Linked DNA regions of Homo sapiens: all the other regions are linked to region 1. Evidence: fine-mapped expression QTL. A gene starts in region 1. Each other region holds a variant in brackets. All regions are shown on one strand. Distances are from middle to middle.

Region 1 (4,182 bases):
CTGACAGTTGGGAAGCGCATCCATACCAAAAGGCCGCCCATGCTGTCCCCTCCGCAGCCCAACCCCATGCCGGCGCTCCATTTTGAGAGCCTCCTGCACTGGTGAGATCTTGGCTCCCTTGGTTAAAGGCGATTTTTTTCCCCCAGAGAAAGACACCAAGGCGATGAAGGGAAAGAATATCCTTCGCTCTGGCCGAGAGCCACCCGACCCCTAGAGCTGGCCTTGCTGCGTCCGAGCCAGCGCCGAGGCGCCAGAACTCTCCAGAGAGTGAGTCGTGGTAAGAGCTGGGTGCTCGTTCACTGCGGTTCAATTTTACGACTAGTAGGTTTCAAAAGTAAATGTTTTAAATTAAGGTGTGGGACTAGGAGGAGGTGTCCCATGTGGCACCCCCGGCATGAGGCTGGCTGCAAGGGAGCAGGGATGGCAGGGGCTGGGGCTGGGGGTTGTCTAATGCCGAGGCCAGCAGCTGGACTCGGCGTCCCTGGCAAACATCCTCCTCTGGTGGAATTGGGGTCAGCCAGGAGGAAAGGGGTGGCCTTTGGCGGCCGGGACACCCCGGGAGCCCGAGATCTGCATGTGCGGGAAGCGCCAATTTTACGCCGTGACTCTCGGACTCCACGAGCTGAGCTGCATCCTCCCGGACTAGGAACTTGTTGAACCAAAGGGTTCTCAACTCCGCAGTCGCTGCCTCCCGGCCAGGAGAGGGACCCCCACGCTTGCGCGGGAGCCTGGGGGCTGGGGCAGGGCCGGCGCCCAGCGCGGCGCTCTCGGGCACTCGCGGAGGCGGCGCCGCCCGGGAGGTGCTGCAGGAGGCAGCGCAGCTGGCAGCTAAACTTTCTCGAATCTCAGTGCTTCGCGGTTAAGTTAGGGCCAGGGAGAGGCACAAAACACGCCCGGGGAAAATGTAAGGCCCCACCCACGATAAAGGGGAAAAAAAAAGGATTTTAAACAGGAGACGCTAATCCAATTAACACAGTACCTACTGTGTGCGGGGCTTTGGACCAAGAGCTGTCTTCAGTGCGTTCTCATTTCACCTGTCACCACAGCCCCCAAGGGAGGAGCTGTCCTCATTTTAAAGAGAAGCAAACCGCGACCGGGGAAGGTGGCGCGTCTGGCCCAGGTCGCAGTGCGGGTCGCGGGGAGGCCAGGGCTCTCCTCGTCGCCCCATGGCCCTGGGAGGAACGAGCGGATCGCCTCCGCGTGGGCCCCCACCCTTGGCAGAAGCTCACAGGCGACCCACGTGGGCCGCACGGACCTGTTCCCTGAGGGCTGCCCAGCCTGCCCGCGAGGCCCGCCCTTGCCCGTCGGGTCCCAGCTGTCCTCGAGGCTCCTAAGCTACGCACTGCGCCGACCAGCAGGGACAGGGGGCTCTGGGCGTGGGGCTGGACCACCCACACCCACCCCGCCACCCCGCTCTGCGCACAGCTGCTCACACACGACACCCGCCAGGCACCGCTCCCCACCAGCAACTGCGCCCCGACACACAATTCCACAAACGCAGTCCAAAATGTGCACACCTAAGGCACACATGGATGCCCACGAGTACACGCCATTCGAAAGACACACCACCGTCCGCAGTCACCCACAACTCCACCGCGCAGAGAAACGCGGGCACTCCCGGACACACACACGCGCGCACAACACACACGCAAAGAGCCGGATCGCAGCGCTCGCCGGTGCACACGCCGGGTGCACACGCCCGGGGCACACTTCAGCAGCCAGCAGACCGCAGCCCGCCCCTTCCCTACCTGCTCCGGCGCAGGACGCGGTCCGCCGGCTTCCCGAGCCCAAGTTCGGCGCCGGCGGCGGCTGCAGCGGGCCCGGGCCGCTGCCCGGGACAAGCGCGCCGAGGCCGGGAGGAGTGACTAGCAGCGCGGGCCTCCGTGCGCCCGCAGCTGCTGCGCCGGCCCTGCGCTCATCGCCGCCCAGAAAGACAAAAGGAAGCCGGCAGCCAGGGAGGGAGCAAGGTGGAGGCGCCCGTCAGTCCGCCCGTCCGCTGCCCGCCGCCGCCGCGGCCCGCCTGCCAGCTCCGGGAAGGAAGGGACGCGAAGGCGGGACCTGGAGGCGGGACCCGGAGGCGGGGGCCGGGGCGGGGCGCGCGGCCAGAGGCGGGCGCTCAAGTTTCCTACGGCCCCGCCCCCTCCGGGCCCCGCCCCCTCCACGCCCCCTGCCGGACCCTCAGCGCCCGGCTCGGCCCTCGCAGCCCCTGCACCTCGCTGCTCCTCGGCCCTCGCGGCCCAAACCTGGCCCTGCCGGGTCCCAGCCCCCAGTGGCTTTCGGGACAGGGGCGGAGCCGGGCACCGGTTCTGTTCCCCTAACCCTTGGCCTCTGGCCTGCTGGTATAGAAGAGGCCGAGAGGCGGCGCCCGGGAGGGGCCAGCCCTGCGCCCGCGCCCCCCGCCCCCACGCCGCAGGAAGTGGCCCGGGCGGCCTAGGAAGGGGAAGAGCCGAGTTGCCCCAGCCCCGCACCCCCAGCCCCAGCCCCGCGTGCAGCTCGCACCCCTTCCCACGCCTGTTCGGGGGAGAGCCCCGGGCCTGGAGTGGGAAGCCTGGCTCCAGCTCTGGTTACCTGCAGTGACTCCCCAGGCCGTTTAGGCGAGTCCATTGGGCCGCCTCTGCCTCGGTTTCCCCACCTAACCACGGAAGGTGCTCCTCCCTTCCAGGCATCTGTGGTCTTCGAGCTCCACGCGGGAGAGGCGCCGGTCTGGCACCTCCTGCCCAGGGTCGGCGCCTCCTGGCTCTCGGGGAGGGGGGCATCCTCCATCCCCTGCACCTGCCTCGAGAGGAACCAGGGACAGAGCACCCCCACCCCCACCAGGAGCTCCGGAAAAACGGCTTCAGAAGAGCAAATATACACACACACCCACCTCCCGCCCCAAACATCCCCGAAGAAAGGTAACCACAGAAACAGCCAGAAATGTGGAGCTGGGCGATCGTATGAGGCTGAGACAAAACTGTCTTTCTAGCGTCTCTAGGGGAGAGCTTGAATCCCTCCTTCCACTCCTCCTCCACGGAAAACAGAGTGAACTCCTGCTACAGAGGCCGCCAGAGCAACATGCAAGACCAGCTTTGAGGGGAGCGGGCACAGGGCCTTGCAGGGAAGGTGGGCCGAGCCCAGACCCCTCATTCTTACTTGGCTCTGAAGGCGGAAAGGCAAAGCTAGACCTCGAGGAAGTTCCCCTCCCTGTGGGCCCTACAGTGAAGATTACATGAAGGCATGTGGGCGGTGGACCAGAGTGCACCGACTGATGAAGGCGGCCCGGTACCCGCGGGTGCCATGCCTCCTTCTTAGCCAAGGCCACTCTAGCTCCCCGTGAAGTATCCAGGTAGAAGGCTGGTGGGGTTACAGGTGAGAAGCCGTCGGTGGGGTCCAGGAGCCAGGCCTGGGGAAGCACACGTCACTTCCACCCACATCCATGGGCCAGAAGTAGTCGCACAGTCCCACCAGGATGCAAGGGGCTCTGGCAGCTGTGGTCTTCATGAGTGTTTCGGAAGTAAACAAAGCCGGTTTGATGAACACGTAGAAACATCCCTGCCACAGAAACTGAGCAGATTTCTCCCAAGCACACACAGGGCAAAGGGGCAAAGTCTGTCCACAGACTCACAGGAAGGGAGGTGCATGGCAGACACAGGCAGGAGGTGGGGTTGGGGTGGAAAAGTTCAGGGAGGGCTCAAAAGCAGACCAAGGCCTGTTTCTGAAACCCAGCCCACTCACTGGTTCCTCCACACTTGGCCCATGCTGTTCCTCTCCCATGTGACTTTTCCATCTTCCCCCTCCAACCTGTCACCCATCCATCCTTCAAAACTTAGGTCAGTTAGCTCTCACCTAGCCCTCAGCAGCTTAGCCCGCAGATGCTTCCTCTGTTTCTGAACTTCTAGAGAAACACACTTAACCGCAGACCTCTTATTCCAGGAGTGTATCTCTCTCAGATGAGATACAAGTTGGTCCCTTCCCTTGCGTCCCTCCTGTTCCTTCAAGAGGAGGACTGTCTACCCACCCCGAAGCTTCATGGAGAGAGAGCACACCGTCGTTATTCAATATGTAGTTTTGAATTTAACTAGAGCAAAGAAGAAAGCAAATTCAGGTAAGATGTTGTATAATTTCCTGGGGCTAATGTAACAAGCACCTCCAACTGGGCAACTTAAACAACAGAAATGTGTTGTTTTGTAGCTCTGGAGGCTG
Region 2 (4,182 bases), 87 kb before region 1:
GGCCAGGTGTGGTGGCTCGCACCTGTAATCCCAGCCCTAAGGGAGGCCAAGGTGGGAGGATCGCTTGAGCCCAGCACTGCGAGACCAGCCTGGGCAACATAGTGAGACCTCATCGCTACTAAATAAATAAACAAGCTAGGCATGGTGGTGCATGGGGGTAGTCCCAGCTACTCAGGAGGCTGAGGCAGAAGGATCACTTGAGCCCAGGAGTTCAAGGCTGCAGTGAGCTATGGTCATGCCACTGCACTCCCGCCCGAGGGATAGATCGAGACCACGTCTTAAAAAACAACAACAGCCTGGCATAGTGGCTCATGCCTGTAATCCCAGCAATTTGGGAGGCCAAGGTGGGTGGATCACGAGGTCAGGAGTTCAAGACCAGCCTGGACAAGATGGTGAAATCCCGTCTCTACTAAAAATACAAAACATTAGCCGGGTGTGGTGGCACGCGCCTGTAATCCCAGCTACTCCGGAGGCTGAGGCAGAGAACTGCTTAAACCTGGAGGGGCAGAGGTTGCAGTAAGCTGAGATCGTGCCACTGCACTCCAGCCTGGGCAACAGAGCGAGACTCTGTCACAAAAACAGCAACAAGACCCCAAAAATATAATGAAAGATGCCAGACACAAAAGGACAAATGTGGTATGATTCCATCTATATAAAATGTCCAGAACAGAGACAGAAAGTAGATTCGTAGTTTCTTGGGGCTGGCAGAAGAGCGGATGGGGAAAGAGGGGCTAGCAGGTAAAGGGTACGGGTTTCCTTTTGGAGTGATGAAAGCACTCTAAAATTGACCATGGTGATAATTGCACATACAAGTGAATATGCTAAAAATCACTGAATTGTATACTTTACATTGTATACTTTAAATGGGTAAATGGTAGGGTATGTGAATTACATTTCCACAAAGCTGATTTAAACAAAAATAATAAAAAGGAATCTAAGTCAATATCCTCCTACTCCTATATGCCAGTGGACAGGAGAGCAAAGAGCAGAGTCACAAGAGCAAGGGGACAGAGTGTAGAGCTTCCAGGGGACATAACAGGTCTTAGTGCTTGTCACCCCTTACAGAGGGGAAGGGATGGATGGGTACCAACTTAGCTGACTGCAAACCCCCCTGGCAGCCTCAAATCCAGGACTGGGCCCCCAGGAAGGTGCTGGAGCTGAGCTATAAAACTGCCTTGGAGAACTCCCCAGCAGGCCCTGCAAACCTAGGCCGAGTGCCCACCATGTGTGTTAGGTACAGGGACAGCGTCCCCACCTTTGAGAAGCCCATGGCCCAGTGGGGTGCATGCAGATTAGTGCTGGGCATCGGGTAGGCAGTCAGACATAAGCTCTTAAGATCTCTCTGCCTTCAAGAAGGTGATCCAGTCCACTGAAGGTGGTGCCGGACCCCAGGCCCTCAGGAATATTCATGTTCTCTAAGGAGTTTAGACTGGAGGAACTCTCCGCTCAACTCCAGAAACAGCCCAGGCTGCCACCATGGGCACTGCAGGTCACAGTGTAAGCAGGTTATGGTTCCGGGGCCATTTCTGGGGTCAGTTCCTCCTTCTTGGCCCAGTCCCAGGCCGGGGGGTGGGGTGCATTCGGTGCCCATTTCCCTCACTGGCTGGTCTTTGGGAAAGGGTACTGGAAAAGCTTCTTCCTCCCAGTATCCAACCTCTTGCCCAGGCGCAGGCTTCACATGCTCACTGGGACCTGCAGAAAACCGGAAGTGGCCTCTCCTGCTTGCTCATAGCAGGCAGATGTGTGCTCAAGAGATGACAAATTATTTTAATATATTAGGAAATCCAACATAATTACAAAGCAAAGTCCCTTAGGGAGAAAAAATTATAATGGAGTCTGAAGTCAAAGATGGATGGTTTTGGATTATGACTATTTTGGAGGTGACTGGTTTTCAAATGACTAATTCCACTGTGGCC[T/C]CCGGGTGATAAGCACAGTTGCTCCAAGAATACTGTCACACAGACGTTTTGCACAATGACCTCTCTTCATAGAGGCATTTTCTTCCATTGTTCAATTCAAGAAACTGAGTTACAGAGGAGCCTATGTGTCCTGAGGAGACCACCAGGGTGGGCTGTGGTCTGAGACCAGACACAGAGCACAGGGTGGAAGCCAAGATGTCCACATGAGACCATCCAGGTTGCAAGCTTCACACAGGTGAAGGTCTGGAAAGACCACCCAACACCTGAGCCGCGAGTGGTCATGACTAGTGCCCAGCACCAAACCCCTGGTTCCTGGGGCACTGGGAACTGACTGGCAGGGATCCCTGACTTCCAGAGAATGTGCAATGTCTTACTGTAGCTCCTGCTGCCACTCCCACTACCAGGGCATTTGAGCTCTTGTCACATAATAAAAGGAATCTACTGTCTATGACCACTTTGAAAAACTGGCATATTTACTAAAGATGACCACACACATGCCCCGTGAAGCAGCAGCTGACCTCCTTCATGTATGTCCAACAGAAAGAAGGACACATGTCCAAGACAAAGCATGTGCAGGAACACTCAGAGCTGCACAATTTGTCCCAGCCCCACCCTGGAAACTATCCAAACATCCATGTACATTCCACGGGCAGAGAAACTGGAGTACAGTCACAACAGAGTCCCATAAAGCAATCAGAATGAACCTCAGTGCCCCACACAACAGATGCGTCTCACAACCGCAGTGTTCAGTGAAGTCAGACACGAAGCCTTACTTAATACTGTGTCTTCCTCCAGGCCACTCTAACAAATTACCATAGACTGGGTGGCTTCAATAACAAACATTTACCTCTTACAGTTCTGGGGGCTGGAAGTCCAAGATCAAGGTGCCAGCACAGTTGAGTTCTGGGGAGGGCTGTCTTCCTGGTGTACAGATGGCTCCTGATCTTGCAGGGCAGGTGAGCCCCCAAACTGGGACTTAGCCCAGGAGGGTTCTTGGCTTCACTCAGGAAAGAATTCAAGGGTGAGCCGGTGGTATTAGCAATTTTACTGAAGCAGCTGTGCCCAGCGGCAGCAGAGGGACTGTTCCTTGCGGGGCAGGGCTACCCCACAGGCAGTGTGCCCAGAGCAGCAGCTCAGAGGCGGCACTGCAATCAGATTTATTCCCACTTTTAATTACATGCAAATTAGGGGGTGGATTATGCAGAAATTTCTAGGAAAAGGGTGGTAATTTCCAGGTCGTCAGATGATTGCCACGGAAAGGAGCCGTAACTTCCGGGTATTACCATGGCAGTGGTAAACTGACATGCACACTGGTGGGCACGTCTTAGGGAAAGCTGTTTCTACCCTGGCCCTGTTGTAGCTAGTCCTCAATTTGGTCTGGTGTCTGAGTCCTGCCTCTGGAGTCGAGTCCCGCCTCCTACGTCACCTTCTCATTATATACTTGCCTGGTAGACAGCAGAGGCAGGTCTGGCTCGCATCCTCTTCCTATAAGGGCACTAATGACCAAATTACCTCCCAAAGGCCCCGCCTCCTAATAACATCCTACTCGGAGTGAGGGTCTCAGCACAGGAATTTGGGGGCACACACACAATGGGTCCACAGTACACACCAAGATGCTGCAGCGACCTGGACTCTTAAACACTGACGAGGCACTCACAGCTGCTGCTGGTGACAAAGATGGGCCTTCCCAGTAAGAGACGAGGTCGGCAGGGAGTGGGACTTGGGGGCTGGGGATGGAGTTTATATTTCATTTTAAGCACAATTGTTGTAGGAAAACTTTGAAAACCAGAGAGTGCTACAAAAATACCAGGCACCAGGGAGAGAAATCGCAGGAGTCCCTGGACCTGGGGGCAGCAGAGACAGACGGGAGACCGTGAGACCTGCAGTCTTCTCCCAGTGACAGGGGTGGGGTGGGGACAGGTCACCTCGAAACACGATGTGTTGTCTTGAGACTGAAACTTGTTTGTTCACTCAGGACCTTCCATAGGCAGGAAGGAAAATAAAACAGCTCACTGCTCACTAACAGAATTCTGGAACCTCCCGAGCCCAGTCACTGCCACCCTCACCATGGCTCCCAGATGCCACTGACCTTCTCAGGCAGCATCTGAGGCACTGAGGCACCTCCTGTTCTGGAAGGAGGAAGATAAAACAAACCTTTGCCAACATCAGAACAGTGAGGCAGCCACAGGGGAAATGCCGACGGCCCCGGGGAGGCAGGGAACAATAAATCCGCTCCCAATCCAGTACTTTCTATTTGGGGAGCCTC
Region 3 (4,182 bases), 29 kb before region 1:
GAATTCCAGGCCTCAAGCCTCCTCCTGCCTCAGCCTCCCGAAGAGCTGGGATTACAGGCGTGAGCCACCATGCCTGGGCCACCATTTATGAGTATTTCTAACACATAAAAACTAATGTTTTGTTTAAGGTTACGCACATGTGTAGCAAGAGCGTAAAACGCGCACAAATATGATCCCTACTTCCCTCCGCAGAGTGGCTATTGGTCACTGGGGAAAGAAAAGAGTAGAGAAGAGGAGAGATGGGCTTGGGCTGGCTCTGTAATGCTCTACTGGAATTTATAGTACAATCAATCAAAATAAAACAAAAATATGGTCTTATTTTTGCTAAAACATACCCACATTTCTGTTACACATATCTACAAAGCATCTGTAAAATCTGGACACAGATGACATTATTTTATTCCTTTACAGGTTGATGTTCTTGATGGCATTAGGTCTCTTCACCTATGTTTCTAGACTTTATGCACACTTCTGGAGAGGCAGAAATGAGTCTGGAGGGGTATAGCTCAGAATGCTAATAAAAGTTATATGGAGGTGGGCAGGGTAGTTATGGGGGAATTTTTTTCTCTGTTTTTCTGTGTTTTCCAGTCTTACCAAAGAGACATAGAATATTTGGGTAAAGAAATAAAAACTTTCTTCAAAAATCAAATCAAACTCAAAGCCAAAATGGCCACAGCTGAACACCAAAGCACACCAGCTCTGAGAGCACAGAGCAATTCCAGGAAGGTTTGCCTGGGAACACAGCTGCCCACGTGGGAAGAGAAGGTGCTGGGCCACAGGAGGCTGGCTTAGGCTGGCTTGGGCTACGGTGATACATCTGCCAGCAGGATCCCGAGAGGTGCCAAGAGGCTGCAGCCCACCCATCCCTGGAGGGAATGGCCTCCTGACTTTGCTGAAAGGAGGAAGTTGTGAGGCCAGGCTGGCTCCTTGACCTCCAACAGACAGCAGGGGTCAGATGGAGAAACGTTACACCAGTTCCCCAAGACAGACACAAACATCCACAATTCACTGTGACCACCTGATTCACGCTCCTTGGTAATTTCCCGAGTCTCTCCTGTGAAAATGCATTAGTTTTATCGTAGGGAAATTAGTAAACTTTAAAAAGAGAAGAATCTTTGTCTAGCATTTACAATGCCCAAGAGGCTGATTAAAGACCCAGTGCAGAGATCGTCAGCAGGTCAGGCCCCTGGTGGCAGCGTCCAGGCGTCATGGGGCTCAGGCAGGGCCCACTGTGCCCCACACATCCAGTGAGCCCTGAAATCTCCCACAGAGCCCCAACAAAGACCCACCCTGCCCCTCCCCCCTGCACCCCTCACCCCAAGATCAAACTTCACTCAGGCTCCTCTGAGCCCTCTTTCTGCCTCCTGTCTTCAGCCTGCCTGGCCCAGTCTCAGCAAGAATCCTGCTTAGTCAGTTTAGTGAGCCTCTCACGCCCTTCACATCTGACCACCCTTGAGATCCAATCAGTCCTCATCCCCACCTTTGACATCAAAGTCCCCCCCTGCCTTTGGCAAGAATCCCCCTACCTGTGATGTCTTCTCGCAGCTACTTTCCACTCACCCAGCCCACTCCACTTCCCAGCTCTGTCCCTTCCTTGCTGTATTAGGAGTTGGGCTGATCTCTCCCCTGCTGATAAGGTCAACCCCGACTGCATTTTCCTCGAATAAAGCTGTCCTCACTGTTTTAACAAGCGTCTGACTCTTATTTTCCTCCAAGCCTGCAGCCCAGCTAGGGAGTACAGGGGCCCGCTTCACCCCTTCCCTGCACGGCTACCCCCCACCTCCCACCCTGCCTTGCCCACCCTAGGCAGAAGCTGTTCTAGATAAGGGGCAGGGGGCACCGAGGGGCTTCCTGAGAACCGCAGAGGGGCGGGCCAGGGGCTAGAGAGGAAGGAGGAGGGTTCTAGAGAAAATGGAAACCTGTGGGCAGATGGAACTTTGAAAAAAGGAGAACATCATGATGCAACTCAAATGAAGCTTAAATGGAAGGAAATGGTAAATGCTCAGATCAGATGGAGAAGGAGGGGGAAGAAGCTGA[C/T]GGGATCATGGGTGGGTGGAGAGAGCAGTCAGGCTCTGGGCATGACCTCAGCCAGGTCGAGGTACTTCCCCTCTGAAGCCACTGTCCTGTGATCGTCCCCAAAAGCAGGAAGGGAGAAGCAAAGTGAGTACACCTGACAACGGGTGACAAGGAGCGCTCCCTCTGAAGCAACAAGTGACACAGGGCTCATAAATGACAATGGGTGACAAGGAGTGCTCCCTGTGAAGCAACAACAGGTGACACGGGGCTCATAAATGACAATAGGTGACAAGGAGTGCTCCCTGTGAAGCAACAACAGGTGACACGGGGCTCATAAATGACAACAGGTGATGAGGAGAGCTCCCTCTGAATCAACAGGTGACACAGGGCTGTCTCGTAAATGACAACGGGTGACAAGAAGGGCACCCTCACCACACACAGGCAGCAAGCCCAGCTGGGGCCACCACAGGATTGGCCAATGTCACCAAGCAGTTGATGGCGGCTTGTTTATGTCCCCATCCACAAAAGACTAGAAACACCATGCCAGACGGGGAGAAAGATGCATGCGGGGGAAGAGACAGATGCCTCTGACAGCCGGGCGTGCAGTGGGGGGCAGACAGCCTCACACCCATCCCTGGACCCCGGGCACAGTGCAGCTGGGCCCAAAGCACACACTGACTTCAGCGCAGCTCCACCACCAGCCAGCGCTTGGCCGTGGAAAAGCTCCTGGGAGGGTGTTCCTGCCCCGGAAAACCTCGCTGCTGCATCCGTTCCACCAGCAAGGTTTCCTGAGTGTCTCCTGGGTTCAGAAACGGTGTCCTGTGGGACAAGGGACATGAAGAAAGGAGCCAGCCCCGTGCCTGCAGAACTCCGAGCTCCCCGGGGAGACAGGAGGAAACGCAGGAGGAGGGGTGACGATGCGTAGGTGGCGAGGTGAGGAAGGAGAGGGCGCTCGGGTGACAGGAAGGGCGCCTGTGGGCTCAGGAGGCAGGAGAGGCGGACGTGCTGAGTAACAGGCAGCCAGCACCCTGTGGCTGGGCCGGGGGCACCTGGGGGCAGGCAGGAGAGTCCAGGCTGTCCCCAGAGCCCGCCCCGCCCTCTGCAGGCTCTTGGCAAGGCCCGCATGCAGTAAGAGGGTGCGGTCACTTGCAAGGCTTAGAGAAACCGCTCCTGCAGCCGGGAGAGCAGATGGGAGGCCACGAGATGGAGCGAGAGGCGGGATGAGGAAGAAGCCAAGATGGCAAGACACAGAGAACTGGAGAGGCCGGGGCTGCAAAGGAGGCACAAGCAACAGGCTTCCCGCTAAGGCTCTCCGAATGCAGGGGTGGGCTTGCTGCACCCCCAGGCTGCACCCAGAAGCTCTGACTCAACCAGCACGGTGTGGGCCTGGGAACCTGCATTCTCACAAAGATGATCGGGGTCCGCAGTCGGAGACACACTGACAGAGAGCCCCTGCCGTGGGCAGGAAGTGAGTTAACGTGGACTGAGTGTGTCCCCCACAAAACCCCTATGTGGAAGCCCCAATCCTTACTACCTCCAGATGTGACTGTATTTGGACACAGGGACTTTGAAGAGGTCATGAAGGTAAAATGAGGTCACTGCGTGGCTCCTGATCTAGGGCTGGTGTCCTCACAAGGAGACTGGGACTCAGACACACTCGGAGGGATGGCCGTGTGAGAACAGAGGGAGAAAGGGCTACACGGAGCCGAGGAGAGAGGCCTCGGGTGACACCAACCCTGCCGCCACCCTGTCTCAGACATCAGCCTCCAATACTGTAAAAAAAAAAGAATTCCTGTTGTTTAAGGCACCCAGACTATGACCCCGTTTCCAGCAGCCAGAGCTGACTAATACACCGGGAAGGTTAGACGACTCAGGGCTTGGTGGGGAGGGGCAGGGTGGCCCTTGCTCCAAAGCTGCTGCCCTTCGCCACTCTCCTATGAGGACTAAATAAGAATAAGCATTCTGGGAATTGCAAACATCCACCAAAAAGTCAGGAATTCTCCTTTTGTCCATGTCAGAAGCATCTAGACTGGGACCTTCTGAGCACGACTCACCAGCCCCCATTCCCTGTGGCGCCGACAGACAGCCCCGAACACAGCATAAAGGCCGCTCTGAAAAAGAAAGCATCTCTAGCTTGCCACATAAATTGTGCATAGTCTCTAAAAG
Region 4 (4,182 bases), 97 kb before region 1:
CGCCTGTAATCCCAGCTACTCAGGAGGCTGAGGCAGAGAATCGCTTGAACCCAGGAGGCGGAGCTTGCAGTGAGCTGAGATCACACCACTGCACTCCAGCCTGGGAGACACAGCGAGACTGTCTCAAAAAACAAAAACAACAACAACAGCAAAAGCTTCAGTTCCTGCTCTGAGCCTGGCGCCGGGCTTGGGTGCTGGATGGCAGAGGGAGACAGCATTCCAACATGGACCAGCAGCCTCAAGCCTCCAGCTTCCCAGCTGGGCCCCAGTTCTCTCCTGACCCTTTTCCCAAGGACAGAGAGCTGGGTTCCATTTACCCAGGGTGTGGCTAGGAATAATCCCATAACCAATTATTAGCACAGCGCCTAGAACACAGGAAGCACACAGTAATTGTTTGACGAGAGGCAGGAAGGAAGTCAAGGAGGGAGAGAGAAGGTCCGGGTGATCTAGGCGCTCCTTACAGACAACTTCCAAATCCTCTGCAGATCCGGCCTTGGAATAGTGGATCTTCGGCCACCGCGGCACTGTCTGTGCACCCTCCGAGAGCCCCATCAGACACATTCTAGCCCAGATAGTCTCTAGCCTCAGCAAAAGAGCCAGTTTCCCGGAGACCCTCTGGGGGCCTAGGAACACCCAAAAGAACAGATATTTGCTAAACATCGTCTATGATCCCAGTGATTACTTCTAAGCTAAAAATTTGCACATGGGGTCTGAGAAGTCCAAGAATATTCTAGGGGGTAACTGAGAGAAAACGTGTAATCTGGGCTGTCCCAGAAATACCAGGCCCTGTGCCTGGTGTGGTGCTGGATGCCTGGGGAAGGGGAGCAAAGATCACTGTGGACTCCACCTAGAGAGGCCGGTGACATGGGTGGGGAGGAGCCTGGCTGGCTCGGACCTGGCCTGGAGACCCGGGGCCAGCAGGCAGCAAGGTCAGGGGAGTGTCCTTGTGCAGCCTCGGCTGTGGCTGCCTGTGTGGCTGAGCAGACTAAGGGGCAGGTCAGCCGCCCTTCCTTCCACCTCTGCCTGGCATCTCCCAACCAGATGGGGAGGCTAGGCCGGTCTTGCTCATGTGGGATCTGGATGCAGCCCTTCACACAGAGCCCGACATGGAGCAGATGCTCCGGAGATGCTGACGGCTAGGATTCCCCCGCCAGGCACCTGGCGGTCCTGCAGAAGGGCCAGGACAATGTCCCCAGCCCTCCACCAATTCCAGGGCAGATGAGAATGCCAAGTTGTGCCTGCCCACAATGTGTGTATGTGTGTGCGTGTGTGTATGTGTGCATGTGGGTGTGTACGTGTGTGCAGGCACGTGTCTGCCCACAATGCTTGTCAGACAGGATCTGCCCTCCGTGGCTGAGGGCTGGAGGGGACGACCACAGGAAGTGATACTGCCAAGTCATCCCAAGTCACCCTAAATATAACCCTCAATGTACAACACAGGAGGATTGTCCCTTCCCCGCTGCCCTGCCTCATGACCAGCGTCTGCCTAGGAGGGCACTTCCAGAAAGGCCGCTCAGATGGCTCTCTGAGATGCCCGCCTGGGATCCACGGCCTGGCCAGCACTAGAGGGGAGGCAAGCCTGGGGTCCTGCTCTTCCGGCCCCAAATCTCCATGGCCCTGTTCATCTAACTTCTTCCAGAAGAATTGTTGGCTACACAAATCACTATGAGCAACAATGATCTCTTAAGCCTGGGAGGAGGCATCCTTATTTAAGGGACACAGAGGGCTGCCGTATGGTGGGGGTCTGGCTGTGCCGAGATGCTGCTCGCACCTGTCTTCCTCAGCGGTCGGGGTTGCCAGCGTCCTGCCCCTCAGGTGTGACCCACTCCGACCTGGCTGAG[C/T]CGCCTGCTCGCCCCCTCCTTGCCACGGGTGCACGTCTGCCACAGGCCCTTTGCACCAGCTGCTCCTTAGCTAGAAGCACGCCCGTCCCTGACCTCCTGCAGGCCTTTGGTCAGGTCTCATCTCAGGAAGGCCTTCCCCAAGCACTCTATCCAAAACCGACACTCATTCTTTATCCCCTTTCCAGCTTGATCCTTTCTCTCATTTCTGTTTTGTTGAGTTCACTGTCTGTCTCCCCTTGAGTGGAGCTCAAGGTCCTTGGGGCCAGGTTTACTCTGGTCTGTTCTCCATCAGAAGCCCAGAGCCTGGAAGCTTGTCTGACACAGGGTACGTGCTCCATGAACCCACCTCAAGGGAAGGAACGCATGAGTGTCTGGGGACGTGGAGAGGGAGGCTGGTAGGGGAGGCTGGGACTCGAGCCTTAGTATGCAGGTGCTGCTTCTCCACTGCCCGGGGAGCGGCCTGCTGTACATGACCAAGGGCCAGGGGCAGAGAGAAGCGGAAGGCCCTTCCAGTGCCCATCACCTGACCCACAACATCCACGGCCAATGGTGTGAATGTGCTGGAAAGTGCCTTCTGATCCCAGAGTCCCTCAACTCGTGGTGGTGGTGGTGGCGGTGGCGGTGGCGGTGGTGGTGGCGGTGGCGGTAGTGGTGGCGGTGATGGTGGCGGTGGCAGTGGCGGTGGTGGCGGCGGTGGTGGTGATGGTGATGGTGGCGGTGATGGTGGTGATGATGGTGATGGTGGTGGTGGTGGTGATGGTGATGGTGGTGGTGGTGGTGATGGTGGTGGTGGTGGTGGTGGTGGTGATGGTGGTGGTGGTGGTGGTGGTGGTGATGATGGTAGTGGTGGTGATGGTGGTGGTGGTGGTGGTGGTGGTGATGGTGGTGGTGGTGGTGGTGGTGGTGATGGTGGTGGTGGTGGTGATGGTGGTGGTGGTGGTGATGGTGGTGGTGGTGGTGGTGATGGTGGTGGTGGTGGTGGTGGTGGTGGTGGTGCAGTGATATTATTTGCTGTGCGTGCACTGAAATGCCCCAGGGGTCTGGGGATGGGAATGGACACCTCGGACCACCTCCTCTACCCTCTTCTGATCTCTTCGCCTGCTCCAGCTTCTTGACACGGGTATCAGCCTCAGCACGACCTGCCGGGCCAGGCGCCTCCCCTGTGCACCCGTGCTGACAGTGGCCTCGGGCCAGGACATTTGTATGCAGGTGACATCCAGGTAACACGGACCCAGATGTTCCCCCACTCTCTAGCTCCAGTAAGGCTGGTGGATGGAGAATGAAGGAGTGGAAGTGGCCCCTTCACATGCAGTTGTGTCTATTTTCTGCTGAGAAAAATACTTTTTTCTCAGCTAACCACACGCTAACTGGCACCCTGAGGCTGAGGCCCCAGCCTGGATGTCTCCTCCCAACCCAGCAGCTACTGTGGCAAGGAGAAAGCGGAAGGAGAAATCGCCTCCCTCAGGAAGAGGAAGGCAGGAAAACCCACCCCACCCACGGGATGCAGATCTAAGGGCGGGGCAGGGGACGGGCAGAGGGTGGGGAGCTCACTTTGCCCTGGAAACACCACGTGCGTGCGTTGGTGCCCAGCGGGAAAGCAGCCACGCCCGGGGTCTGCCCTGGGCCCTGGGCTGACCGGCTGCGGGACTCACATCTACCAGGGCCACAGATGAAACCTGCCACTGGTATCTGCCCTCCACCCCTCACACAGCCCAGAACCCCATCATGAACACTGAAATTAAGACAGTGATGCTTTAACAGGTTTTGGGTCCAAATTTTAGCCTGGCTGAGTATTCAAAGGTGGTTCCTTCTGAGTGGGAAGATGAAAATTATAAAGAGCATCTCCCGTGTCTAGGGCCAAGAAAATTCCAGACTTTTGGAAAGCGACTTTGTATGAGGACTTGGAGGACTTTAATCCTTATACAGGACCCTGCCAAACTCACCAGATGCAAGTCGGTGATGAGGGCTCTCAGGGGCTGGGCATGGCCAGATGGGGCTCTGTCCCCAAATGTCCCTCCCCCAGGTGTCCCCCCGGGAGCCTATGACAGCTGACCCTTGCTACATCCATGGCCCCAACTGATGCTCACAGTATGCAGGAGCAGGTGGGGCAGGGTGGTGAGTGACAAGAGTCACCATAATAGTCATGAGACCATGAGAGGGAGGAGGGAGAGAGAGGAGGAGCTGTGGGGCAGCCAGGTCCTGCTGGTCCAGATACCACAGGGACACTTCACTCCAGGTCTGATCTCGCATTGACCCTGAAGAGGGTGTTTTTATCAACCTTAATATGCACGAGATTGGAAGGGGCTGTGAAGAGGCACAGCCAGAATTACACACTCTCCAG
Region 5 (4,182 bases), 130 kb before region 1:
GTTGGCCAGGCTGGCCTTGAACTCCTGGTCTCAAGTGATCCACCCGTCTCTGCCTCCCAAAGTGCAGGGATTATAAGCATGAGCCACCACGCCCAGCCAACAGTAAACTTTTTGAACATGAAGACATTTGTCAACCAAAGGAAACACACAGTAAAACTATGAGAATCTATTTCTCACCTATCAGATTGGCAAAGACAAGAGTTCCCCAGCTCGCGGGGTGAGCAGGTGTGCTCAAGCACTGGGCGGAAAAGTAAATTAGAGCAACAGTCTCTTTGGAGGGAACTTGATAATATCAATAATCCACATTATCTTTGACCCAGCAGTTCTAAGAATTTCTCTGATGATACTCTTCTAAAATTATTCATTGTGGCATCATTTGTAAACAATCTCTTGTACACAAGCAGGTACTGATGAAATTGTCAATGGAACGGGATATACAGTGGTTAAGGAATGAAGCAGATTCATCAGTACTGATAAGGAACAAGCTCCAAGCTAGATTCAGTGAGGATAGCAAAGCAAGGGGCACGTGTAGTATGCTACTGTGTGTGTAAAAAGCAAAATCAAACCCCAACAAACTGTGTGTGTACATACATACTTGCATATGCATGGCATATTTCTGGAAGAGCTTGTAAGAAACGGGTAACAGAGGTTGCCTCTAGGCAGAAGAACCAGAGGCCTGGGCCGAGAGTGGGGACTGGCTCCACACTGCGCTTTTGATATTGGAATGTATTACTGACTTTACGAGGATTGTAAAATAGGTTTCCCGCGTGAAGACATAAACTCAGAGATGAACTCAAGTCACGCAGATAGTGAGGCAGCATTCAAGCCAGGTCAGAGGACCCCAGCATTCATTCGGTGTTTCCCTACCCTGGGAACATGCTGTTAAGCAGCTGGAGGGTGGCTTGGGCAGTGGACTGGCTCAGGGGGACATGGTAGAGTTGCTCACGACCTGGTCCTCACCTTTGCAGGGTCCAGGAGGGCTGGCTCATGCCAACCCAGCTCATGAGGCCGACGAAGGCAGCAGACCCATCAGAAGCCAAAGATGGGAACATTCCTGGCACATCAGCAGGTGGTCAACCCCTCCCTCCCCGACAGTGTCAGGGCCAGGCACTGCCCCTCACAGATAGCCTGCAGCAACCAAGGGCAGGCCAGAAGCCGGTGGGCAGAGCAAGCCACGTGTGCCCCCTGCGGCCCTCTTGAGCCCTGGCTGATGCCCACTTTGCACTTTCTCGTGGGTAGGGCCTGCCCCTTCCCGGGCCTCACTCGGCTTGTCTTGTGAAGTCATGTGCTCGTCACACCCCAGCAGTGACCTCTGCTACTGGGACCACACATCTCTTCGCAGGTTCCCTCCTTACTAGATTTTCCTAAGTGACTCGAAGTGGCTGGCTAGCCCCTTCCGCTTAGGGGGTTTTCTGGCTGTCACCCTGTACCCTCTTTGACATGGGCCCTCCCCCATGCTGGATCTGGGGGTTTGCTTTGCACCATCTCTGGGCCCGGCTGGAAAACTGCCCCTGAAGGCAAGAGTCGACCCATTTCAAATCGGGCTCTGTCCCCACCAGGGATTCCCGAGAAGCCTCAGTGCCTGGGGGTGAGGGGGGCAAGTGGGGGGCTCTGCCTTCTCCGCCTCACCCAATCTCACCCATCGGGTTTCAAGGTAGGACGTCATGTGAAGCAAAGGCTTTGCAGAGTTCTCCCAGTTCTTGTTTTTTACAGATGGGATGAAGCCCAGAGAGGCCAAGTGACTCGTCCAAGGCGAGTCTGTAAGTTAGAAGGAGGGCCTGGGTGTCCTCAGGGCCCTGCCTCGCCAGCCAGCTTCTGCTCCTGGGCTCTTGCTGAACAATGACCATGACTAGAATGCGGCATCCTTCTCTCACCAAGGGCAACGTGTTCCCGGCCCCTGCTCTCTGCCAATCCTATTCCCTGCCAGGGTGGCAGAGGCAGCCCCGAGCACCCATGGCTCCGGAATACCACAGACGGTGGCACCTGGCCCTGCATTCCTGCTGTGGCTTCAGCTTCGGCTGGAGCTGGACAGACGAAGCTGGACCCAGGCCCCACACCTCACTAGGCACTAGCCAGACCCAGGCCCTATGCCTCACTAGGCACAGGGGTCCCCACGGCCGCCTCCTTCTGAGTGGGGGTTGAGCTGGTGCCCCCCACCCACGGCAGGGCAG[CTACAAGGGAGGAT/T]TGGTGAAGGCCCGAATGCAGGGCACAGAGTGGAAGCGCCTCCGGAATTCTTGCTGCTGTTGGGAGTTCGGAGAATTTTATCCACATGCAGCACTGACTCCAGGCTGGAGAGGGCTGTGACCAGGCGTGCTCTGCCACTGGCCAGGGGTTACCTAGGTGGAGCTCAGTCAGGTGACTTGTGGAGCTCAGGCCCGTGAGCTTGTGAGCTGGGGAGCGGGGGTCTCCAGGCTGGGCCAGCTCGGGGGTGGCTCCGCAGGGGAGGAGACCTGGTGCCCTGCTGGGCGAGGGTCAGTCTGGGCCTGGGTGGTTCCGCCAGGAGGGTCATGCACCTGGCCCTGGGGGTGCCTGTCAGAAGGCCTGGCCCTTCCAGCTTCTCACCCGCCCCAGGGCTGTGCAGGCCCCACTCCCTGGCTTCTCAAGGAGGGTTGCCAGACTTAGCACAAAGATAAGATACTGCACGGGACATATGTCAGCTGCAAAATTGCTTCTCGTTGATCTGAAATTCAAGTGTAACTGGGTGCCCTGTATTGTATCTGGCATTCCTATCTGGCAATAAGGCCTCTGGTCCTGGGTACCGGGAGCCTGGCCTCAGCTTTTGTGTGCCGTTTGGCCCACCACAAGTCAGGGGCTCCTCTGGGCCTCAGCATCCTCCTCTGTCATCAAATGCCGCCCAGGACAGAAAGCTTTTCTCGAAAGCAGGCCCAGCTGGAACCCGCACACCCAAGCCCTGGATGGCCCTCCTAGCTATGGACACCAGGGGGCAGCAGCACCCCGCGGTGGCAGCGCGGTCGGGGCCAGGAAAAGGCAGTCAAATCACTCGACCACTGGGCAAACACTGATAGCTCCACTATCGCAGGGGGCCCTTGACAGCCACAGGGCTGTGAGACTGGAGCGTGGCCTCGATCCAGAGCTCCCGACTCAGCCACTCCAGGGTCCCGGGGGCTTTGAGGAAGGGGCACCAGGCAGCCCAGTCCCCGACCAGACCACTCCCCTGACCCCCAAAACACTTCCTGAGGCCCCCCAGGTGAAGCCCCCAGCCCAGCCCCTGCACCCCTGCCCCATGTTGTAGAACCAGCCCTGTGTACAGCTGGTGGGGCCCTGCAGCCTTGGTCCTGCCTGTCCCCCTGCCCGTCCCCGAAGTGGCCCCAATCCCCTCTGAGGTGTTCCCAATCCTCCCCTGTGCCCACCAGCGACTGGTGACCCCACCCGGCCTCCCCTGACCACCCCCCATGATAGGCTGAGTGGGCGGAGGGCAGATCTCCCCCCGCCACCCCTCCTGTGGGGCTGGTGCCTGGCACCTGTCCCTGAGCCAGAGGCAGAGCCCACCTGAGGCTGCCTGTGCCGCCCTCCCCATCCCCCACACACTACCACACATGCAAACACACCACACACATCCACAGCGCACACTAAGACCACATGCCCCAGCCTCACACACACCCCACAAGACACCCGCACACATGGCTCCCATGCTCTGCCATCCCTGCCAGGGTGCCTGACCCTAACCCTGGGGCCCCCACCTTCGGAGGTCCCCAGGAACCTGGAGGTCAGGTCCTGCCCCTGAGGACCCTTGCCATTCCCCTCAAGGCCCTGCAGCCCCTCCCTCTGCCCCTGGTTCCCTGACCACATGGTTTACAGATGAAGACACAGCGCTTGTCCAGTGCCAGGCGGCTCATTCGAGGTGGAGCTGGGACTTGGCCTGGGTCTCAGTGTGTGTCCAGGGCATAAGCTCATGCGGTTCCAGCTGCGTGAAGACAGAGCAGAGCCACCTGCTGACCCTCCCTTCATTCATTCATCCCCACTCATTCCTGAGCAGCCTCGCAGGGCTTCAGGGTGGAGACGACCAGAGTAATTTGATGAGGTCACCGAAGGCGACCTCTGGAGGAGGGGACATGGAGGCCTAGGACAGGCCTGGTGCAGGGAAGCTCAGTGTGGAGGGAGGCCACTGTGGGCCCAGGTGGGCCAGGAAGGGGAGCAGGGTGCCCAGAGCCCAGGCCCAGC
Region 6 (4,182 bases), 80 kb before region 1:
TGTGCCACCATGCCCAGCTAATTTTTGTATTTTTAGTAGAGACGGGGTTTCACCATGTTGGCCAGGATGGTCTCCATCTCTTGACCTTGTGATCCACCCACCTCGGCCTCCCAAAGCGTTGGGATTACAGGCATGAGCCACCGCACCCAGCCTGTCGCCTCTATCTTTATTTTCACATCTTTGATTTCAGTCTGCTCAGCTCACTTCACAATCAGAAAGAGAAGTCTTGAGGCTTTCTTTAAAAGTGCCAGCCCCGGCTGCCACTGCACTGTTTACTCTGCCTAGAACACTCCCTAACTCCCCAGTGAACTGCTCTTCCTTCAGACCCCAGCTCAGGGTCCCTCCCTAGGGAAGCCCCTGAAACTCCCAGCTGCTGGCTTTCATAGCACTGAGCACCTCCCCTTCATCCACTCTGCCACCGAGATTCCACTTTTCTGGGATTTGCAGATTAGCATCTGTAGCCCCATGGGGGAGGGGGCCTTGCCCCAGTGCCCAGCACAGCACCGTGCACCAAGCAAGCATGGCAGTTTGTGGAGGGCAGTAGTGAGTGTGAGCGAGGGGACACCACAGATGGTAACCTGGGCTCTCCTCTCTCCCCAGGGTGGGTGCCCAAAACCCTTCCCTCCAGACATCCCACGGGGATGTGTGGAGGGTGTTCTCTCCCTCCACCCCTCTCCTCCCACAAGGGGTATTTTGCAAGAACACCACTGGCAGCCCCATCCACTCCTAGTGAGGGGAAGCAGCTCATCTGATGTGACTGAAGAAAGAAATGACCTTCCTGCCGGGCCGCCACCTCCCTCACCTTGTCCCCACCCTGAGGGAGGAGGTCTGGGGTTGTTCTTTTGTCTGCCTAGGATTGGGAAGTTTATTTTAAAGGGTGGGGCAAGTATTAGGATGCTGATTCTTGCCATGGAGCCAGCTTACCAATCCAGAGCCACCAGCAAAAGGTGTGTGTGTGTGTGGGTGTGTGTGTGTACGCGATGTATATGCATGTGTAATTATATGTACACACATATAATTTAGTGACTTCAACCTGAGTGATTTTCCCGGGTACATTTGGCAATGTCTGGAGATATTTTTGGTTATTACAACTGGGGAGTTGAGGGGACATGCCTACCAGCATCTTATGGGTAGGGCCAAGGATACTGCTCAATACCCCACAATGCACAGGACAGCCCCCCCTTCCCCGCACACACCAAAGAATTATGCTTCTCCAAATGGCAACAGTGCTGAGGTGAGGAGACTCGACAAATATATTCCCCTACTGGTCACCTCTTAGATTTACCTTTTTTTTCTTTTCTTTTCTTTTTTTTTTGAGAAAGGGTCTCACTCAGGGCTGGGTGGCTCACACTTGTAATCCCAGCACTTTGGCAGGCTGAAGTGGGCAGATCACTTGAGGCCAGGAGTTTGAGACCAGCCTGGCCAACATAGTGAAACCCAGTCTCTACTAAAAATACAAAAATTAGCTGGGTGTGGTGGCAGGTGCCTGTAATCGCAGCTACTTGGCAGGCTGAGGCAAAAGAATTGCTTAAACTTGGGAGGTGGAGGTTGCAGTGAGCCGAGATCGTGCCACTGCACTCCAGCCTGGGCAACAGAGCAAGATGCGGTCTGAAAAAAAAGGGGGGTGGGTCTCACTCTGTCACCCAGGCTGGAGCACAGTGGCGCGATCTTGGCTCACTGCAGCCTCAACCTCTTGGGCTCAAGTGATCCTCCTACCTCAGCCTCCTGAGTAGCTGGGACCACAGGCACATGACACCACGCCAGGCTAGTTTTGTTTACTTTTGTAGAGAGGAGGTCTTACTATGTTGCCCAGGCTGGTCAGGACTCCTGGGCTCAAGCAGTCCTCCTGCCTCAGCTTCCCAAAGTGCTGGGATGACAGGCATGAGCCGCCGCGCCCAGCCAGATTCACCTTTTGACTAGTTGCAGACTCTAATGGTAAGGGGTTGCAGATTAAACCACGCCTCATTCCCAGAGGAGGAGTCAAAGGTGCTGCAGGGTGTCCCGCACACCACTGCCCTGGAGAGTGGTGCACAAGCGAGCCGCCACTCCCCTCCTGTTCTTAAACAGGAAGGAGCTCGAGGAAACGCAGCTTCAAGTG[C/T]TCAGGAAAAGGGCTGAGTGCCCTGTGGTGTGGCTGGGCAGAAACAGGAAGGTGTGCAGCCTTCACGGCTGGTTTGCTGTGGAGAGCACACTCCCACACTCAGCAGCTGCAGCCGGGCACAGGAGGTCTTCACTGGGTCCCACACGGGAGCAGGGAGGGGGTGGTGCATGCGGCTTCTCATCCAGAACCTCATAGAGCTGTTTGGTTCCTGCCTCTACTCTAGCTGACTTGCTTGGGATGCGTGGCCCTCCACGCAGTGCTTTGCATGTGGTCATTTCCCTTTTTTTTTTTTTTTTTTTTAATTAATGAACTTTATTTTTTAGAGCTGTTTAGTTCACAGCAAAATCGCGTGGAAAGCACAGAGTTCTCTACATACCTCCTGCCCTCCCTACTACCAGGGTGGCTGTTTGTTACAACGGATGAACCCGCCTTGTCTCTTCACACGTCATTATCACCCAAGTCCGTAGGTTACATTAGGACTCACTGCTGGTGCTGTATATTCTATGGGTTTTGACAACTGTGCAATGACATGGCTCCCCCACTACAGTATCACACAGAGCAGTTTCACTGCCTTAAAAATGCCCTGTGCTCTGCCTGCTCATCCCTCCCTCCCTCCTAACCCGTAGGAACCACTGATCTGTTTATTATCTCCATCGCTTTGCCTTTCCTAGGATATCATAGAGTTGCAATCCTCCATAGGCATAGCCTTTTCAGATTGGCTTCTCTCACCTACTCATATGCAGATGAGTTCCCCCATGTCTTTTCATGGCTTGCTAGCTCATTTCTTCTTAGTGCTGTGGAATAATATTCCATTGTCTGGATGCACCACAGCTAATTTATCCATTCACCTGCTGAAGGACACCTTCGCTGCCTCCAAGTTCCAGCTGTTATGAATAATCGTGAATAAAGTCGCTATGAACACCCATGTGCAGGTTTTTGTGTGGACATAAGTTTTTTTAACTCCTCTGGGTAAATATCAAGGAGCATGATTGTTGGATCACAGGGTAAAAGTGTGTTTAGCTTTCTAAGGATTTGTCAAACTGTCTTCCAAGGTGGCTGTACTGTTTTGCGTTCCCACCAGCAGTGAGTGAGGCTTCCTGTGGCTTCACATCCTCCCTCGCATTTGGTGCTGAGTGTCCTGGATTTGGGCCATTCTCATCGGTGTTTGCTTTGATTTACAATTCCCTGACAGCCATTTGTTTTTAAGCCACATTACTTTAAGATCACACAGGACCAATCTTTACTGTGAACCAAAGTCTCAAAATTGCCATCAGGGATCCCAAATGACATGATGCTCTGGCGGCGCAGAGCACCTGGGCAGGAGGTGATATAAAGGGAGGATACCCCAAGTTGCCCAGAAGACAGGCTGACAAACATTGTCCCTGTAGTCCTGCCTGATGTGACAACGCCCTGTCTACACTGGAACACGAACATCTCCACGCAGTGCGCATTACAGTCCAGAAGGAGCGTCGCATCCACTTTGTCACTTAATGCCTGGAAACCCAGACCTGAGGTGGGAGGAAACTTGCTGGAGCCACACAGCGGGAAGGGAGAGTCAAGGTCCCTGTGCAGAGCTTTGGCTGGGGCTCAGCAGAGCCACGTCTCTGTTGTTCAAAGCACAACGTAACATCCTTGTGGAATCTTTAAGGAGCTTAGATGCCTCCTTGCTTAGACTAAGGGCCTATCTGGTATTTCACAGATACATGCATCTCCTGGGTGGTGCCCACCTCAGGGGCACCTGCACACCTCAGACCGGGCCATCAGGCATCCTGGGGCCCCACTCTGCTCACCAGCCCCCATGAGAACTCCGGGGCTGCCTCTGTCCTGCACAAGCACTGATCCAGAGGTCCCAGGCCATCAAGATCCCCAGCGGTTCCCACACTTGAACTTTCTTATCAGGGTGGTGGGCTGGTCTTCAAGCTGGAATAGAAGTCTCATTTAGGCACTCTTTCGCTTATTCAAAACATTCTTAATTGGACTCCTACTATGTGCCAGTCACCATCCTAAGATGCAGCAGAGAACAAGAATGATTCCTGTTTTCAAGGAACCCGCAGTGTGATAAGTGCCCAGGAGATTTTGCGGCC
Region 7 (4,182 bases), 110 kb before region 1:
GCTCTCTCCTGGAGGCTGTCGGGCCCGACGCAGGCTGCCTCACAAGAAACGGGGGGCGGGGGGAATGCTGCATGCTGCTGTGACCCCTCTGTCATTCATTAAGCAAAGGAGCCAACCTTATTGGTGCTTGGCTGTCTAGTAAGACGACCGAGCAAAAGCAAGCCTTTCTGCAGAGACAGAAAGCCACCACTCACGTTTCCCAGCAGAACAGCCACCTTGCTCCAGTAATTAGGCAAACCCAGCCTTCATTTCTCAGGAAGTCTTTCATCTCCAAGGAGGATGGTGGGGTAAGAAATGGGAGGCCCAGGGGAGGGCAGTCTATTTGAGAGCAGAACCATCTCCTGCTCGGCTTAAAAAGATTCATATTCAAGCAAGGCTCGGATCAAACTAGTAACAGCTGTCTGAGGGCATCAGAGATGACGTTGTAATTCACGGTGATGGAAACATGGGAGAGGGAGTTAATGAGTCACTTACAGCCACCTCTGTGGTTCTCAGTTACCCTGCTATTGTTCTTAATCTGCTGAATTGTAAAAAAAAAAAAAAAAAAAAAAAAAGAAGAAGAAGAAAAAGAGGAACAAGGAAAGAAATGTAAACATGCAGCTGGGGAGCCCTGTGAGAAATAGTTAACCCAGAGTCGGTATTGCCTGTAAATTAAAGCCTGTTTAGTGGCACAGTTCTAGCAGCTGCTCAGTGAGGCTCCTGGGAACCGAGGGCTTGATTGTCCTGTTAATCCCACCTCAGTGCCGGCTGACGGCATTGGTTGGCATCTCATCCCATTGCTCCAAAATGCTTTCATCAGTCAGATCCCCGAAGCTTGCCAGGCCAACCAGACTCTGAGATGCTTTGAGGGAAGGCGACCAGAGAGGTGGGAAACACCAAATGCTTATGAGAGACCCAGGCTGGCCGGGGCGCCGTGGCTCACACCTGTCATCCCAGCACTTCAGGAGGCCAAGGCAGTGGATTGTCTGAGCTCAGGAGTTCAAGACCAGCCTGAGCAACATGGTGAAACCGTCCCTACTAAAAATATAAAAAATTAGCTGGGTGCGGTGGCACGCACCTGGTAGTCCCAGCTACTCGGGAGGTTGAGACGGGAGAATTGCTTGAACCCGGAGGGTGGAGGTTGCAGTGAGCTGAGGTGGTGCCACTGCACTCCAGCCTGGGCAACAGAGCGAGACTCTGTCTCAAAAAAAAAAAAAAAAAAAAAAAAAAAAAAGACTGAGGCTCAGGAAGAGGCTGGAGAGGCGTTTGTTGTGAATTTGAACTTCAAGGAATCAGAGGGCTCAGGCCATTTGAGATGAGAGCTTGTTCTTCCTGGGGTGGAACAGGAAGGTGGAAGGCAGAAGGGGCCGGTGGAAGACAAACAGGTTTGTGCTCTTTCTTATCCAGCACCCAACCCAGTTCTTTCTCCCGGTGACCGCTGGACCCACACGGCCCCTGCAGCTAAGCCCCTCTCCTAGGGCTGATTGCATTTTTCAAAACAACTCGGGCCTGTGTCCTTCTTTCCTCCAAATAAGCAAGTGACAGTCAAGCTGCCTGCAGCCTTAGCTTCCCGGTAGTTCTCCAAGGAGGGGCCCGTTTTGCCCCTGGGTGATTGCGGGGAGGCTGTGCCGGCTGCCAGGACCCAGGTGCAGGGAGGAGCCGATGCATCTGGGACCATCCAGGCTGAAGTGTGGCTGGGCCGACGCTAGAGGGAGCTGTTGAACAGGCTCCCAGGGCCTGAGCTGAGACCCCGCCCCTCTCAGGTGCCTCCGTGTCTCCACCTATAAGCTAGGGCTGCTTTGTCCACTATGGTCACAACCAGCCACACGTGGCTACTGAGCACATAAACCGTCGCCAGTCTGAACTCATATATGTGCCCTTAGTGTAAAATACACGCCGGATTTTGACGACTTCATATGAAAAAAAACAACATAAAATATCTCATTAATACTTTCTCTTTCTTGATTACATGTGAAATGGTAAATGATACCATTTGGGATCTAACGGTTTAAATCAAACAAGTTTTAAATTTCATCTTTTTTACTTTTCAATGCGGCTATAGAAAAAGTTACAATCACATAGGTATGTGTCTCCCACTTTATTTCCCGTGGGCAGTGCTGGGTAGAAGTAGCATTCAGTGGGTGATACCAGGGACCCTGGATCTGGGGCTACCAAACAGGGACTCTTCAAGCTCATTAGCACCCTGTGGTATCCTTTATTTATTCACTCCTTAGTGCCCTTGAGTGAAAGATCATGGCGTTTGTATTTCATAATTACCTGTGAGTCCCACACGGTTCTCTTTTCAGCAGGG[A/G]GGGCTAGCCTGAGAACGCTGCCAGAGGCCAGCTGCAGTGAGGACCCCAGGTCTGACCCCAGCTAAGGAATGAGGCTGGTGGGGAGGGGCTGCAGAAGGAAAAGGTTCCTCCTTCTCTTTGGAGCTGGAACAGCCAACCCTGCTGAGTCAGATCCGGGGAAAGAGGAGGTTAGTAACACCTCTAGAGTGACAGTTCCAGGGCGTGCCTGCACCTAAACCCAACCCACTGACCTAGAGCTCATTTCTGGAGGCCTTCCTGAAAGCTGTTGCATCACGGCATTTTACCCACTGGAGGGGCTCCAGGCCAATGACCTGTTGTTGAGAAATCCAACCGAAACCTTCTTGACTTCTTACCCATCCCCAGCCTCTTAAACTCCCCACAACTCCCCAAAACCTTACAAGAAAAACATAACATATGAGAAGAGAGAGAGAGAGAGACCCAGCAGGGCACAGAAATCCCCTTCCTCTACCAATCTCTCCTTCTTTTCCACCCTCTCAAGGCTGAAATGCCCTAAATGAAGCTGGTGAGAAGGAAGAGGTGGAGAAAGGAAAAGGGAAATCCCCAAGAGCTGTACTTTCTCTTGCAGAAGCTGCTACTGCGACAGGAAGAGGAATGTGTGGGTGGCTGTCCCTGCACACCTTGTGCCTCTGCAGATATGAGTTCACCCGTGTGGCACGCTCGCCTCAGCCACCCTGCCAACCCCTACTCATCCACCAAAGCCCAATGCAAAGGTCACTCCTCAGGCTTGCCTTTCCCAGCCCCTACAACTGCTCTTCCCTTTGAATTCTAACAGCGTTTTTCTAGTATGAACTCAGCTTTGAACGCGTCACTTCTTTGTCTTTTTCCTTCATTAGACTGGGAGCTCCTGGGGGAAGGAGAATCCTTCATTTGTCCCAGTCAGAGAAGCTGCTCAGCGTGTTCCAGCCTCAGGGCCTTCGCACCTGCAGTTCCCTCCACCTGTCTGCTCTTCCTTCCCCTCAGTGTCTGCAAGGCTCACTCCCTCCAAGTTCATGTTCTTGCTCAACAGTCGTGGGGAAACCTCCTCCAAGGACCCACCTCAAAGAGCATCCACCCTCACCCTCTGGTCCCTCACCCTGACCCCTTTCTCAGCATTTCCTGCCACCTGGCACTATATTTACAAAATCTCTTGACTGTCTGCCTCCTTTTGTTCACCACTGTACCCCCACAGGGCCCAAAACAGGGCCTGGCACACAATTCAGTCAATAAATATGTTTGAATGAATGGTTGTGTATTCCAAGCGCCTAGCACAGTGCCTGAGCAAATGAACAAAGCAATGAGTGAGTGGTTCTTTTTCTAGGATCCCTCTTATTCTAACATTCTGTGACTCTTCCAGTTTTAGGAATTGCTGGAGGAAGGTCAGGGGTTAGGATGGTCAAGTGCTCTCCTGCTCAGATTTGAAGCTGCTCCAAGAAGGCACATTCAGACTCGGTATTCTGGAAATCTCTGTTTTCTGGCATGGAAACAGCTGCAGCAGAGTAGAGTTTTGGGGCCATGCCAGACTTGGGGGTGTCCATTTATCAAACTGGTGCCAATCTCCTTCCCAGGTGAACACATCCCAGCTATATGGTCCTCAGCCAGTGGGGTGGGGGACAGGATGGGGGACTTCCTGCTACTCTCCAGTGAGATCATTCCCTGGACCAGTGCGGCGTCATCATAGAGCGAACATCACTCCAGCTTGAGTCTTTGGAGAGGAGCTCTTTGAGCTGCCTCCCAAGCAGAGAAAGGGAGGTGAGTGAAACGGACATACATGAGCCTCTGGGGAGAGAACAGGGAGACAGGAAAAGGGAAACGCCCAAGAGAATGCTCCCCTTCCGTCCGGAACCCTAACCCAGCAGGAAAAGGAAGCTCAAAGGCAGGACCAAAATGAGAC

Which allele goes with the higher level. Positions count from the first base shown, and alleles are read on the strand shown. Sizes are in standard deviations (SD) of each study's normalised expression. Not every link is listed here.
With allele A in place of G in region 7, the expression in whole blood of the gene that starts at base 2,022 in region 1 is lower (small effect, 0.35 SD a copy in GTEx).

Evidence for each region.
Region 2: its variant is fine-mapped to the expression of HPCAL1 in esophagus mucosa (GTEx, PIP above 0.99).
Region 3: its variant is fine-mapped to the expression of HPCAL1 in whole blood (TOPMed, PIP above 0.99).
Region 4: its variant is fine-mapped to the expression of HPCAL1 in whole blood (TOPMed, PIP above 0.99).
Region 5: its variant is fine-mapped to the expression of HPCAL1 in whole blood (TOPMed, PIP 0.99).
Region 6: its variant is fine-mapped to the expression of HPCAL1 in whole blood (INTERVAL, PIP 0.93).
Region 7: its variant is fine-mapped to the expression of HPCAL1 in whole blood (TOPMed, PIP above 0.99). The same link has a PIP of 0.9 or more in NK cells, monocytes, monocytes after LPS, monocytes after interferon gamma and neutrophils.

Annotation. Positions count from the first base shown.
Region 1 is chr2:10,300,744-10,304,925 of GRCh38, reverse strand. HPCAL1 (hippocalcin like 1) reads right to left here and starts at 2,022. Exons shown (of 5, transcript NM_002149.4): 1 at 1,749-2,022. LOC101929691 (a long non-coding RNA gene) reads left to right here and starts at 2,209. Exons shown (of 4, transcript XR_922791.3): 1 at 2,209-3,348; 2 at 3,913-4,084. RefSeq lists silencers at 1,128-1,307, 1,626-1,823, 1,708-2,487 and an enhancer at 1,388-1,447.
Region 2 is chr2:10,388,159-10,392,340 of GRCh38, reverse strand. The region is part of intron 1 of HPCAL1 (hippocalcin like 1); the gene reads right to left. Among named protein-coding and RNA genes, the nearest start is that of SNORA80B, 57 kb to the left of the region's middle. The variant T/C (reference allele first, on the strand shown) is at 1,917.
Region 3 is chr2:10,330,099-10,334,280 of GRCh38, reverse strand. The region is part of intron 1 of HPCAL1 (hippocalcin like 1); the gene reads right to left. Among named protein-coding and RNA genes, the nearest start is that of HPCAL1, 29 kb to the right of the region's middle. RefSeq lists enhancers at 2,081-2,668, 2,498-2,697, 3,228-3,327 and a silencer at 3,068-3,117. The variant C/T (reference allele first, on the strand shown) is at 2,038.
Region 4 is chr2:10,397,864-10,402,045 of GRCh38, reverse strand. All of the region lies in intron 2 of HPCAL1 (hippocalcin like 1), which reads right to left. Among named protein-coding and RNA genes, the nearest start is that of SNORA80B, 47 kb to the left of the region's middle. The variant C/T (reference allele first, on the strand shown) is at 1,842.
Region 5 is chr2:10,433,879-10,438,060 of GRCh38, reverse strand. No RefSeq gene overlaps it. Among named protein-coding and RNA genes, the nearest start is that of SNORA80B, 11 kb to the left of the region's middle. RefSeq lists enhancers at 2,818-2,867, 3,512-4,182. The variant CTACAAGGGAGGAT/T (reference allele first, on the strand shown) is at 2,172.
Region 6 is chr2:10,380,810-10,384,991 of GRCh38, reverse strand. All of the region lies in intron 1 of HPCAL1 (hippocalcin like 1), which reads right to left. Among named protein-coding and RNA genes, the nearest start is that of SNORA80B, 64 kb to the left of the region's middle. RefSeq lists enhancers at 1,390-2,043, 2,044-2,699. The variant C/T (reference allele first, on the strand shown) is at 2,099.
Region 7 is chr2:10,406,809-10,410,990 of GRCh38, reverse strand. All of the region lies in intron 2 of HPCAL1 (hippocalcin like 1), which reads right to left. LOC124905972 (a long non-coding RNA gene) reads left to right here. Exons shown (of 3, transcript XR_007086211.1): 2 at 2,878-3,022; 3 at 3,146-3,533. Among named protein-coding and RNA genes, the nearest start is that of SNORA80B, 38 kb to the left of the region's middle. RefSeq lists a silencer at 1,673-1,802 and enhancers at 1,662-2,274, 2,275-2,886, 2,134-3,333. The variant A/G (reference allele first, on the strand shown) is at 2,291.